Regions from separate parts of the Homo sapiens genome. Here all the other regions are linked to region 3. The links come from fine-mapping of genetic effects on gene expression. A gene starts in region 3. Each other region holds a variant in brackets. All regions are shown on one strand. Distances are between the middles of the regions.

The links. PIP is the estimated chance that this variant, and not a neighbour inherited with it, causes the effect. A credible set is the group of variants that fine-mapping cannot tell apart.
Region 1: its variant is the best candidate, but not a certain one, in a credible set for the expression of EXOC6B in cerebellar hemisphere (GTEx, PIP 0.69).
Region 2: its variant is the best candidate, but not a certain one, in a credible set for the expression of EXOC6B in left ventricle (GTEx, PIP 0.74).

The regions. Positions count from the first base shown.
Region 1 is chr2:72,176,109-72,180,349 of GRCh38, forward strand. EXOC6B (exocyst complex component 6B) reads right to left here. Exons shown (of 22, transcript NM_015189.3): 22 at 1-3,353. The coding sequence ends at 3,227. Among named protein-coding and RNA genes, the nearest start is that of CYP26B1, 30 kb to the left of the region's middle. The variant C/G (reference allele first, on the strand shown) is at 1,771.
Region 2 is chr2:72,752,736-72,756,976 of GRCh38, forward strand. All of the region lies in intron 1 of EXOC6B (exocyst complex component 6B), which reads right to left. Among named protein-coding and RNA genes, the nearest start is that of EXOC6B, 71 kb to the right of the region's middle. The variant G/A (reference allele first, on the strand shown) is at 1,681.
Region 3 is chr2:72,823,584-72,827,824 of GRCh38, forward strand. EXOC6B (exocyst complex component 6B) reads right to left here and starts at 2,450. Exons shown (of 22, transcript NM_015189.3): 1 at 2,215-2,450. The coding sequence starts at 2,327. RefSeq lists enhancers at 1,445-1,955, 1,802-1,851 and a silencer at 2,042-2,211.

The sequences.
Region 1 (4,241 bases), 650 kb before region 3:
CAGTAGCTTTACAAGTAAGTTTTAGAGAAAAAAGTTCCCTTTAGAGTTAAAAATGGACTTTCCTAATTTTCTCTATATATGTGCAACTATCTGTGTAAAATAAAAATGCCATTTCCAACACCTTTGTGAAAAGTAATTGTGAATGCAGGCAAAAAAAAAAAAAACAAAAAGGAAGAAGAAGAAGAAGAAGAAGAGGCAATTGCAGTCAAGAGAGGAGTCCTGGGAGAAGGGAGGCTAAGGTAGGGGAATTTCTGCAGCAGTTCCTAGAGAGTGTGCTCAGAGGCCTGATGAGGAAGGTCATGGCCAAAGCCAGTCTTGGGAGATAAAAGGCCGTGGGTCTGGGACTTGCTGAGTAAGCACTTGTCAAGTGTACAGTAAGGCTAGACTGACTTGGAGGACTGGTATGCAATGAGAACAGTGGGCAATGCACCCTGGAAGCTCTACATTCCCTTTGCCAACAGGATCTCACTTCCTGGTTCCCATTTTCAGGTCCTGTTCTTCCCTACCTGCAACAGCTTCATTTATAGCCTGCTCAAAGAGATTTTCCCTATGAATGTTAAAATGATGCAAGCAGCCTATATTACTACTGAAACCTAATAGAGTCCCAAACTGAACTGTCCCTTCAGGAATATAGACCTGGTTTCCTCAAGAACTTGGCCAAGGGTTCATCCTGACCAGAAGCCATACAGGCTTCTAGCCATCTGTGTGCTTGCCCTCTTATTGAGGCCCTCCACGGTACTTCTACATCTCTAGGTATTTGAGGCCATATCTGAGGAGTCTGATGGGTCTGGGCACACATGCTTTGCACAAGTCCTCTCAAGGGTTGGCCCAGCTACAGGTTATAGACAAAACTAAAAACATCCCACTTTTCTAGTTCAAAAACTTGACATTGCTGGTCCCTGTTTTTACCTTCCCTGGCCCACCAAGAGTATGTCTCTACATACAACTCAGTAGCTGCATGTTGTTTTTTGTTAGATAAGGTGAAGGCAGACTAAGAATGGAGAGAAGATATATCAAAGGGTCCATCTTTATGTCTTGAGCTTGAATAAGCTTTTCCTTTCATGGGACTTCTGTGCAGAATAACCCCTATTCCTCCACCTTGTTCACTTTTTCCTGTATAGCACAGTTCTTCCAAGGCAGAGGTTTGAGACCAGACCAGCAATGATGATCCTCTAAAAAGACAAACACTGTGCCATGCTTACACATCTCTCCATTTCCACTTCAAAGTCTCTCAGCACTTAAAGCTGAAGAGATCTTGCTGCAAACTGGGTACTAGCAAAGAGAAGTGTTTTGAACTCTTCTCAAGCAATAGAACTTCAGATTAATATAATCGTTTCTCACTTGTTTCAACAAAGATGAGAGCTTGGCGATGCCATTTTGGCTCCTGCCTTCTCTTGGCTTATCAAGTTCTGGGTGGCAGTGCTCATCCCTTACCCTCATTCTGAAACCCTGGCCAACCATCCAGCCCTCAGGATGAGCCTCAGCAGCATCTATGAGCTCACATGTAGCCTGGTCTCTCCAGCTTTGAGGAAATTTGTATGTCTGTGTGCACATCCTCTTCCCCATGACTATCAAGATATGATAGGATATGGTGAGGTAGGGGGGTTGGGGAGGGGCAAGGAAGTACTTCCCTCCCCAGAAGCAACTCAGTAGCTGACAAAGGTAGTGAAGAATTCTGTTTGATGAGTCTCTCCTCCCATCAATCCAAGCTGGAAATGCCTGTGTGGCTTATTTGTCATTGTTTGGTGATGCACAATTATACTCTTGCCA[C/G]TAGCCATCTTTCTGCTACTAGCCAGTAGCATCTTTCTGAAGTGTCTTAAAGTACAGTTTCCCCCGACTGACCTCATAGCAAAGCCCTTGCGTTAAGTCTCAGGAGTCCATCTGGGTCAATGAGTGCAGCCTCCACGCTAAGCTGCTCCAGGCTTTAGAGTTTGGAGGACAGGATTATAGGCAATCTTTCTTAGACAAGGCCAAAGATGGCTTTGGGGATCTCAAAAGAGGGTGGGAACCTTGGGCTTGAGCAACAAAATAATATCTAGGATATTATTTAGTGAAGGACAGTTGGGCCAGAGGCAACAAGCCACAAGCCATGGTTGGCTCTGTCGACTTTATGGTAACAATGTCTCCATCCCTAGAGGCATCCAGTCCAGGCATGGCTGCCCCCACAGTGCAGAGCTGGTGACATTTCCTTAAAGATGATAACCAAAAAGCTGGTTTTAAAACATAAAGGAACAATCCCAACTAATCCTCAGGTTACACCTAAGGGTAAGGTAAAGGCCATTTTTAGGCTTCCGAAATCTGAACTATTTCAATGGCATTACTGGAGGAGGCTAAGTCTGAAACGCCCTGTGAAGGCCTATGGAAGTAACTGTTGATTTATGTCCTGAACCAAGTGCTCTGACTGTAAGTGAAGGAAATGAGATGAACAGGGAAGGGATTGGGTCTCTGATTCCATGAAAACTGGCTTTCAAGATCCAGAAAAACTCTTCGAGTTGAGACTCAACACTCCTAGAGCTGGGGCAATATGCAGTTAAACATGGGATCCAATTATTACTGCTGTCTACTTAGCTGTATCCTGCCCTAGAAAAAATTGCAATAAAAGCCTGGGGTTAGATCAGGCTAAAGAAACCGCCATTCTTGGGGGATTGGAATGAAGCTGTCATCTTGCCATATGCCATGCTTGTTCACAAGCCAGTGAAAGTCAGCAGACTGAGGAGATGACCCTCCAGAGCTGCCCTTAGTGTACTAAATAGTAATGTTTGCCATGCCCTTTCCTTGTATTGAGAAGAATCAGCCTCATCTATGTGGTGAATGGGCATCCAAGAGTGAACAGGACATATTTTAGTATCCTTTTGCTTACTCACTCTACCTCCCAGCGCCAGATACCCACTTTTTATGGTTCCTAAGCCCCAGACCTAAGCTTTAGAGCCATGGATGAAAGGTGGTTCATCACTGTGGAATTGATGATACCACCATCTCTAAGATAACACAGATAGTGTAGTAATAACTTCCCCTGAGTCCCAGCCTAGCAACATCTCATGTACTTGCTTATTCTTGTGCCTCTTTTACTATAGGGAAATGTTATGTGAATACTGCACAGGGGTTAATAAAAAAATACATATGCTCTCTTTGAAGAAGAATGCACAAATGCAGGGTCAGCTGGGGCTGGACCCCAGACTGACACAGAGGCTGCAGCAGGTCGCCTCTGTGGGTCCGGGGTCACCCTTCATGAGTGGTGGCTGCTGATGAGTCCTCGGAGCTGCTTGGCCACGGTGTCAATGAGTTTCTGCTTGTCTCGCTCATTTTTCCGAAACTGTGCAAACATGTTGTTCTTGCGGCTAGTATCCTTCATCCTAAACAGAGAAGGAAAGAAAGAGGGCAACATGTTTGAGGAAACAATGGTGGAAGGAGAACCTGCAGGAAGCAGGATGGCAATGCATCTTAACCACTACCCAGAGTAATGAGAGAGTCCAGAATATCTCCACTGTCAGGCCCACACTCACCTACTCATCAGGAAGCTGGCATTCTGGCACCTATAGCCCTCCCAACTTCAGTCACCTTTGGAAACTGGTCAAGACCCAGTTTTGGAGGGGTCAATCTCCCTACCCCTTATACCTGCTCCACCTAATTCATTCTCTTCTCTCAGCAGGTATGTACCTGCTGTAGGTGTCTGGGACAGGGAACAGCTCTGCTGGTCAATAAGCCCTTATAGAATGTCTAGGATCCACTCATTACCTCATGAACCTACTAAATCCTGATAGGACCTTTGAGATAATATTTGAAAGGTAAAGCAGGAAAAGTGTTCTTAACTAGCAATTCCAACAGAACATGAATAACTGAAGGCCACTGTATATTTCTAAACCTCACTCTAGCTGGCTACTCTATCCTATCCCCAACAAAACTAAGGGCTTGACTGACCTTTTTCCTTTCGTCTCAGGGTAAAGGCACATAGGTGGTGTGGTGGCTAAGAGAGTAGAGTGCTGAGGAAAGCATGGGCCAAATGGCTGGGCCATCCTCTCACTCCATAAACCAGAGCTTTTTACATGAGAAGCCTTTGAGTTCTCAATGGCTGTCTGTACCCCTGGACCTTTGACCTTTGGGTCATGCTAAAGCTTCATAGATGGCATATTCCTAGAACACAAACCATGGGTAATTCTGGCCAGTGGTTCTTTCAGACAGACAGCCCTAACTGGGAAACATGGACAAGAAAGTCAAGACTAGGCTGAGATGGTCACAGAACC
Region 2 (4,241 bases), 71 kb before region 3:
TAAAGTCAATAAAAGACTATTAATTGTCAAATCAAATATTCACTTTTAATTTCATCATTTACTTGACTCCACTTTTGTATGTGCCACCATGAACTATCCCCTCTTTTTAAAATCTCTATTCCCACGGCTTCTATTACACTCCTTCTTGGTTCTCCCCATTCTCAGTCTCCTTCAATAATTCTTCTTCTTCCCTCTACCCCTGAATACCTCCTTGACCACTTCTTCTCACTCTTCACATATATATATACCCTCAGAGATCTCATCAATACCTCAGTTGTTAGTATTAAACAAGTCTGGTTACCAAACCAATAATACCAGGATATATCTCTGTCAAGTCCTATAAACCTGACTCAAAGACATCGCAAACCGTGCATGTCAAAAACTACTCGGCTGGGCATGGTGGCATGTACCTATAGTCCCAGCCACTCAGGAGGCTGAAATGGGAGGATCTCTTGAACCCAGGAGTTCAAACCCAGCCCAGATAATATGGCAAGGGGCATGTCTCTTGAATTAAAAAAAAAAAAAAAGAATTTAACTTTCTACCCAAACCCACATTTCACTCCTAGTATTCACCATCTCAATTGAAGATAACACCAGCCACTGAGTTACCTAAACTAGAAATATGTACATTAACCTTGACACCTCACTTCACCTCACACCTCCTCATAACTAGTCACCAAGACCTACCGCTTCTAATTAAATAATGGCTCTTCTATGCTCTTTCCCCTCCCTATTCTCCCCAGCTACTGCCTTGACTCATGTCCTTATCATCTCTCTTCTGAACACTGTTTTTATCACTTTCCCCTTATATTCGTAACAATCCATCTTCAATACTTCTTTGACAGTAATTTTTTAAATGAGACCTTGTACTTGGAAATTGAAAGACAGAAATACACACACATACACACAACTTCAGGATCTTGTTTCAGGATCAAGTCCAAAGTCCCTAGCATAGTATGTAAGATGCCCTCCATGTCCAGCATTATCTCTGAATACTCCCCACATTCACTCTACAACTCTACTTGAAGTTCCTTGAGTGTAGCATGTATTCCCTCTGCCTGCAATGTCCTTACCATCACTTCTCTGGCAAATTCCTACTCATCTTTCAAGGTTCAGCTCAAAACTCAACTCTTTCCTAAAACGTCTCTCCTTAATACAACTACTATAACCTGATACAGAAGCTCCTTACCTTTTTAGTTTTTAGGATTTGTTTTTGTTTTTGTTTTGAGACAGGGTCTCACTCTGTGTCCCAGGCTCAATCGATCCTCCTGCCTCAGCCTCCTGAGTAGCTGGGACTACAGGCAGGCACCACCATGCCTAGCTCATTTTTTTGTAGAGACAAGGTCTCACTATGTTGCCTGGGATGGTCTCAAACTCCTGGGCTCAAGCAATCCTCCCACCTCGGCCTCCCAAAATACTGGGATTACAGGTGAGAGTCACCATGCCCAGCTCAGAAGCTGCTCTTCTTACCAACAAGGTAGAACACAAGAAACTGCTTTGGTTCATAAAACCAAAGCAGCCACGAAGAGCTTAAGCTTGCATACTCTGGAGGAATTTATACCAAACAAGATCATGAGTCCATTCTTTAAAGATTCAAATTCAATACCATTTTTCTCCTACTTGCTGATATGAGGCATCTTTTCCCAAATGACACCAATTTCTTTTTTTTTCTTTTTGGTA[G/A]AGATGAGGTCTTGCTACATTGCCCAGGGTACTGTCAAACTCCTAGCCTCGAGCAATCCTACCACCTCAGCCTCCCAAAGTGCTGGCGTTATAGGGTGTGAGCCACCACACCCAGCCAAATTTAATCTACAATAACAGTCTCTTGCAGCATGTATTAGTCTAGTTCTATGTATTTCATTTTTTTAATAGCTTTTTTTTTTCTTTTTTTTTTTTTAGAGACAGTATCTCACTCTGTTGCCCAGGCTGGAGCACAGTGGCACAATCATGGCTCACTTACAGCCTCTAGCTTCTGGGCTTAAGGGACCCTCTAGCCTCCGCCTCCTAAGTAGCTGGGATTACAGGCATGCACCAACACAAGCAGCTAATTTTTTAAAATTTTTTTTTGCAGAGATGGGGTCTCACTATGTTGCCCAGGCTGGTCTCAAACTTCTGGGCTCAAGCGATCCTCCCACCTTGGCCCCCCAAACTGGTGAGATTACAAGTGTGAGCCACAGTGCCTGCTCATAGTCTAGTTCGATAAGGAATATATTTAAAAATCTATTTTTTTTAATGAAACAAAATCTATTGAAGCACCTAGCCCTATCCTTGATAAGGAGTGTATGATAAGGATATAGGATAAGAATTACTCCTTAACAGTCATGGTATAATCATTCACCAACTGGCTCTCACTTTGACACTGTATAAATTTGAACTGGCCTTGAACCTATGAAGCCATATGTGGTTTGAGGTGAATTTCACCAGGAGTACTGTCATCTTGTTTTGCCTCAAAGTTCTTGAACAAATGCCTAGTATTATCCAGAAGTTACATTAGGATAATGGGCCTAGAAATGAATGGGCACCACTACTAATGATATTTACTGGTGGAAAGCACAGTTCATGTCCTTTTGCTTTGAAATGTTTATTTGTTCATATTTTTGAAAGGGTACTACGGTGAACACTCTATACAGTAATGATTTATTTACATGTCTATCTCCCCTATAAGACCATGAGTTCCTTGAGAGTTTACACCTGGAACAATGGCTGTATCCCACAGAGAAAGCATTATAAAGTGACAAAGAGCCAAAGCAGTGCCCAAAAATGTTTCAACATTTCATCTTACCCCAAAGAGAAGCACTAGAGTTCAATAATAAATATTTTTACCAAAAAGTTAATTCAAGTTCTAGCAGTGCAAATAATTTGCACTTCAGCTAAAATGTTAAACAGAAAAAGAAAGAAACAGAGGAAGAAAGGAGAAATTTAGATGGCTAAAGGAAATCTATTGTAGGAGGAGAGTAGTGTCTGGCAATAATTTGTTATTTCCCTAGCTCTCCTCTAACCTCCTCTGGAAGCTAGGAGAAGGAAGATGATTAAACTGCAACAAGACCTGGCTCTGAAGAGAACTGATGTTTCTGGCCCTTGTTGCCAACAGAAGGGGGAGGGTGACAGCAGTCCCTACGGGCTTTTAGAAAAAATTGCTTCCAGGTGGAAATTTTTTATGGTACTGAGCAGCCTGGAGCCATTTTTGGCTTTACTTCTTAACTACTGATGATTAAACCATGGACAATCAGGCTGCAACAATGGAAACAGACAGCTCTCAAACATCATGGTTATATGCTCCAAATTACAAAGTTAACTCTCAAAGGAGAGAAACATTTTGTTGGCAAAATCTTTTTTTAAGGGGGACGTTTTTAACTGTGTTGGGGCGGGGGTTGTCAGGTGGAGTCTGTTAAAGATTTATATTTGGTAAAACATAAAAGTAGCCAAGAACTCTGTATCATAATGATAAACATCAGTCCCATGCCAAACCTAGACACTGTAATGCAGAGTCATAGGGAGCTGAACAAAGGACAATGCTAAATGTCCTGGTATTTCAAAATTTTTCATTACTTTATTTTGGCCTGGATTAAGCATTCTATTAAATGATTATCATAGATGTCTGTAGGGAAATCCAGCCACACAACATGTGGGACAGCTAAGTCGATTTATAACCTAATCATGGTTCTGAAAAAAGTTGTGATATATATTTCTGAGTTTGGAGTGATGGCTCAAGAACATTAGCAGAAAAAAGTTACTTATAGTACCAACTCATATGAAAAGCAAACAAAAACAGAGACCAATTATTTGACCACCCAGTAATTTAATCTATGCTATTTTATTACTGCACTATCATCCATACCATTAAAGGTTAAATTCAGCCCAAAATTATAAAATAGTAGTAAAAGTAAGCATTTTTAAAATACGTGCCAAATCCTGTTAAACATTTTATATTCACTAACTCACTTATTCCCCAAATATAATCCTAGCAGAATAGTTATTATCATCATTTTGCACATGAAGCAACCTTTTTCACATTGCCAGTACATAGAAGCATTTACCTTTCCCAGGTTGCCACAGTTATATAAAGTATAATAAAATGAAGGAAAAAGGATGAGGGAAAGGAAAAGGAAGATGAGTAAAAGGAAGAGGAAGAGGAGAGTAAGAAGGAAGGTGAGGTGAAGAAACAGATGTAAAACTATATACACATTCAATATAAAGATAAATATGTTCAAATATTTTAATTCAATTCTATAGAAAACAATCAA
Region 3 (4,241 bases):
GACCAGCTTGGGCAACATGGTGAAACCCCATCTCTATATGAAATATAAGAAATTAGCCAGGTATGGTGGCGAACGCCTGTAGTCCCAACTACTCAGGAGGCTGAGGTGGGAGAATCACCAGGAAGTCGAGGCTGCAGTGAGCAGTGACGATTGTGCCACTGCACTCTAGCCTGAGCAACAGAGTGAGACCCTGTCCCAAAAAAAAAAAAGAAGGATGGTTGCATCCGCACTAAACATGCTACAGACATTTGTCTTGTCATTATTACCTAAACAATACAGTATAACATATATTTACATGGTATTTACATTATATTTGGTATTATAAGTAATCTAGAGATGATTTGAAGTATACAGGAAAATGTGTGTAGGACCATTGACCCTTAAGAGCTGAAGAAAATGGGAATTGAGAAAAGCACAATGGTCCTGATCATAAGGCAATGGGGGTTGGTGGAGAGACAGGCAACTGTGTGGAAGAACTGGTCCAAAAAAGGGAGCTAAAAGTCACTTTAAGGGACAAAGGGGCCAGGCACGGTGGCTCATGCCTGTAATCCCAACACTTTGGGAGGCTGGGGTGGGAGGATCATTTGACCCCAAAAGTTTGAGACCAGCCTGGGCAACATGGCAAAATCCCATCTCTACAAAAAGTTTAAAACTTAGCCAGGTGTGGTGGTGGTGCACAGCTGTAGTCCCAGCTACTCAGGAGGCTTAGGTGGGAGGATCTTAACTCAGGAAGTCAAGGCTGCAGTGAGCTACGATCACATCACTGCACTGCAGCCTAGGAGACAAAAGGGGACCCTCTCTCAATAAATGAATATTAGGTTGGTGCAAAAGTAATTGCGGTTTTTGCCATTGCTTTTAATAAATAAAGAGACAAAAGGCAAACTACTAAGGATAGTTATGACCAGGGGTGGTACTGGCAGAAATGTGCTAACAATGTGTCCTGGAGAAGGAAGCTGTGCAAGTGGAGAGGAGGAGTAATTTCCAGCCTGCCCTCCAATTAGTCTTTCCTGAGTCAACTTACCCCAAGAAAACGCAAGCAGTGAGTAATAACTTTTCTGATGGGAGGGGCAGTGACCCAAGACTGTGCAAGGAGGGTAGGATAGTTATCTATGTATTGGCTGCATGATCAGAATGCATAACAGTAAGGGATAAGGATGAGTTGGTTCTAGGACACCAGTAACATGAGGGGAAGGGGGAAAGTAGTTCAAAACTGGGCTTAGTGAGTAGTTACCAACAGTAAGTACAGGTAGCCGATAATCCCCAGCTGAGGCAAAACAGTGGTTAAGTGTCTGGGTCCAGGCTATCCGAGTAGGAATCTGAGTCCCCCACTTTATTTTCTCTGTGACCTTGGGCAAGTCACTTAACCTATCTGTGCCCTGTCTGTAAAAGGAGAGTAATAGAACCTACCTAATACGGTTGTTTTGTAGCTTAAATAAGTTGCATTTGTAAATCACTTTATACAACGTCTTGGACTTTATGTAACAAGTGCTACCTAAATTTGTTAAATAAGTTGAGGTAAGTAGGGATTTCTTTTGACATCTCCAAATAAAATGGAGATGTGCGTGCAAAAAAAAATGATAACTGGGGGGCGGCAGCAGGGTCAGTTTTCCCCAGCGATGAGGAGGCTGCACCGTGGGCGAGGGTCGTCCTCGTAACAGGGAGGCAGGGATAAAGGAGCAGCGGCTCCCAGGAGAGGGGCGCGGGTTGGGGAAACTTCCATCCAGGCCTAGGATTTCCAGGGACTCGTTTCTGAGAAGTGGCTGTGATTCTGAGGCAAGACTTTGATTTCGAGCACTAGACCATGGAGTGAAATTCTGTGTTGTCTGAAGAGCAGGACTCCTGTCTAGGGCAGGACGTAGTTAGAGACGGAGGGAGAAGGGTGATGTCCCCAGGGGGAAGATCTGCCGGGAGCCACCACCATCTGTCGGGCGCCCTCTCGTTCCCCAGCGCCGGACCAGCCTCGGAGGGAGAACGAAGGCTGCTCCTGCCCCGAGGGAGGCAGCGGGAGGGTCCTGAGTCACTGGGCTGTAGGGCGCCGGGAAGGGACCCCGCGTCGGGGCTGCGAAGGGAGACCCGCCTCGCCCGGTATGCAGGGTCTCTCCGAAGGGAGGGGCCGGCGCCGGACCTGGGGACAGCCGGCCGGAGGCCCGACCCAGAGGAGCCTGCCCCGTCCCGCCCGTTCCCGCCCCTCTGTGGTCCCGGCACCCGGGGTACCTGAGCGTGGGCCCGATGCAGGCCGTGTCAGTGCTCTCGATCTCTCGCAGGATCCGCTCGTGCTCTGCCGCTGTCTCCAGGCTCTCCGCCTCCGCCATCTTACCCCGCTCCATAGACTGGGGGCGCCCCGCAGCGCGTCCCCTCCGTCGGCTCGGCTCACCTTTTCCCTGCCCCACAATGCCGCTCCCACCACAGGCTCCACAGCCGCCCCAGCCTCTGGCTACCCGCAGGCCGACCCCTCCCTCAGGCTCGACACGCCCCCTTGCGTCACCGCGTCCGTCGGCGTTCTGCGTAATGTCCGCTGGGATTTGTAGTTCTCTGGGAAATGCTAGGTTGGATTCCATTCATTCATACATGGAATCCGCAAATACTAGTTGAAGCCCACTGTAAGCAAAAACAGTTAACGACAGTGCGTAAACAGTGATGATCAAGTCAGGCAGTGGCACTAAACCTACAAATTCTTGTTTACCACCTTTGCCACAAAGTGCCAAGGCTCCGTCGGCGCGAATAATAAAGTCTAACTTAATGTCTGACAGAGGCCTTACAGTCTAGTGGGGGAGACACGGGGAGCTGGAGAATTCAAAACTGTGAGCTGTAAGCCAGTTCCGATAATGGAGTTCAGAGATCTCTTCTGGTTGCCAAGGCTTCATAAAGACACTGGGTTTCGGAGGTTAAAAGGCATAACTGGAAGGTGTGAGGAGAATCCAGACAGCCAAAAAGAATTTCATTTGCACTGACGTGTAAAGACGTAGTAGTAAGGGATGGGTCTGGAAAGGTTCGCTGGAGAGAAATTACGAGGAGCCTTAAATACTGGGCTGATAAATGTGTACTTTGTTCTAATGGTTCCACTGATCCAACAACCAACTGCAACAGAAGCACCTGGAAACATTTTTTTTTAATACAGACTGACTGACAGTCATACATCTGGAGATTCTGATCCAGGCATCTGCATTTCATGAACTCATCAGTTACAATTTAAAAATCGGATTTATTAATCATTGCTTGAGTTTTTACGTAACACAATGAATGGGAAGGCACTGAAGGTTTTTTGGGGGTTTGTTTGTTTGTTTGTTTTTGAGACAGTGTCTTGCTCTGTCGCCCAGGCTGGAGTGCAGTGGGGCGATCTCGGCTCACTGCAAGCTCCGCCTCCCGGGTGCATGCCAGTCTCCTGCCTCAGCCTCCTGAGTAGCTGAGACTACAGGCGCCCGCCGCCACGCCCGGCTAATTTTTTTTTTTTTTTTTTTTAGACTGAGTCTCGCTCTGTCGCCCAGGCTGGAGTGCAGTGGCGGGATCTCAGTTCACCGTGAGCTCCACCTCCCGGGTTCACGCCATTCTCCTACTTCAGCCTCCCAAGTAGCTGGGACTACGGGCCCACGCCCTGGGACTACCACGCCCAGCTAATGTTTCGTATTTTTAGTAGAGACGGGGTTTCACTGTGTTAGCCAGAATGGTCTCGATCTCCTGACCTCATGATCCGCCCGCCTCGGCCTCCCAAAGTGCTGGGATTAGAGGTGCAGGTTTTTAAGAGGAGTGACACAATCAAAATGTGGGCGTTAGGAAATTTGGTGAAGGGCAAGTGTGCAAGATGTGCAGAGACAGAGAATTTGGAGATAAGGCAACACTGTAGGAGATGAGAAGGCCTAAACCAGGGAAGCAGCAATGAGAATGAAAAAGAATGAACAAGTAGGAAAAACATCAAAAAGAGAGAATTGACAGGATTTACTAGATACCAAAAAGGTTAGATATTACTCCAAGGTTTAGTACCAGAGTGACTAGTAGAAGAGAGTTTCCACTGACAAAAAAAAAAAGGCATGAGAGAAGAACCAAACTGGAAGTTTAGGCTAAATAATTTGTGCTACAACCATACTATAGACTATTATGCAATCATTAAAAAGAAAGACAAAAGACTCTATGGTCATACATGAAACTGTCTCCAAGTTGTAGTTGTTGAGTGGAAAAATGCAAGGCATGAAACAATATGTAGACTCTGTCCTCATTTGTTTTTTAAAAGAATAAATATTCATATA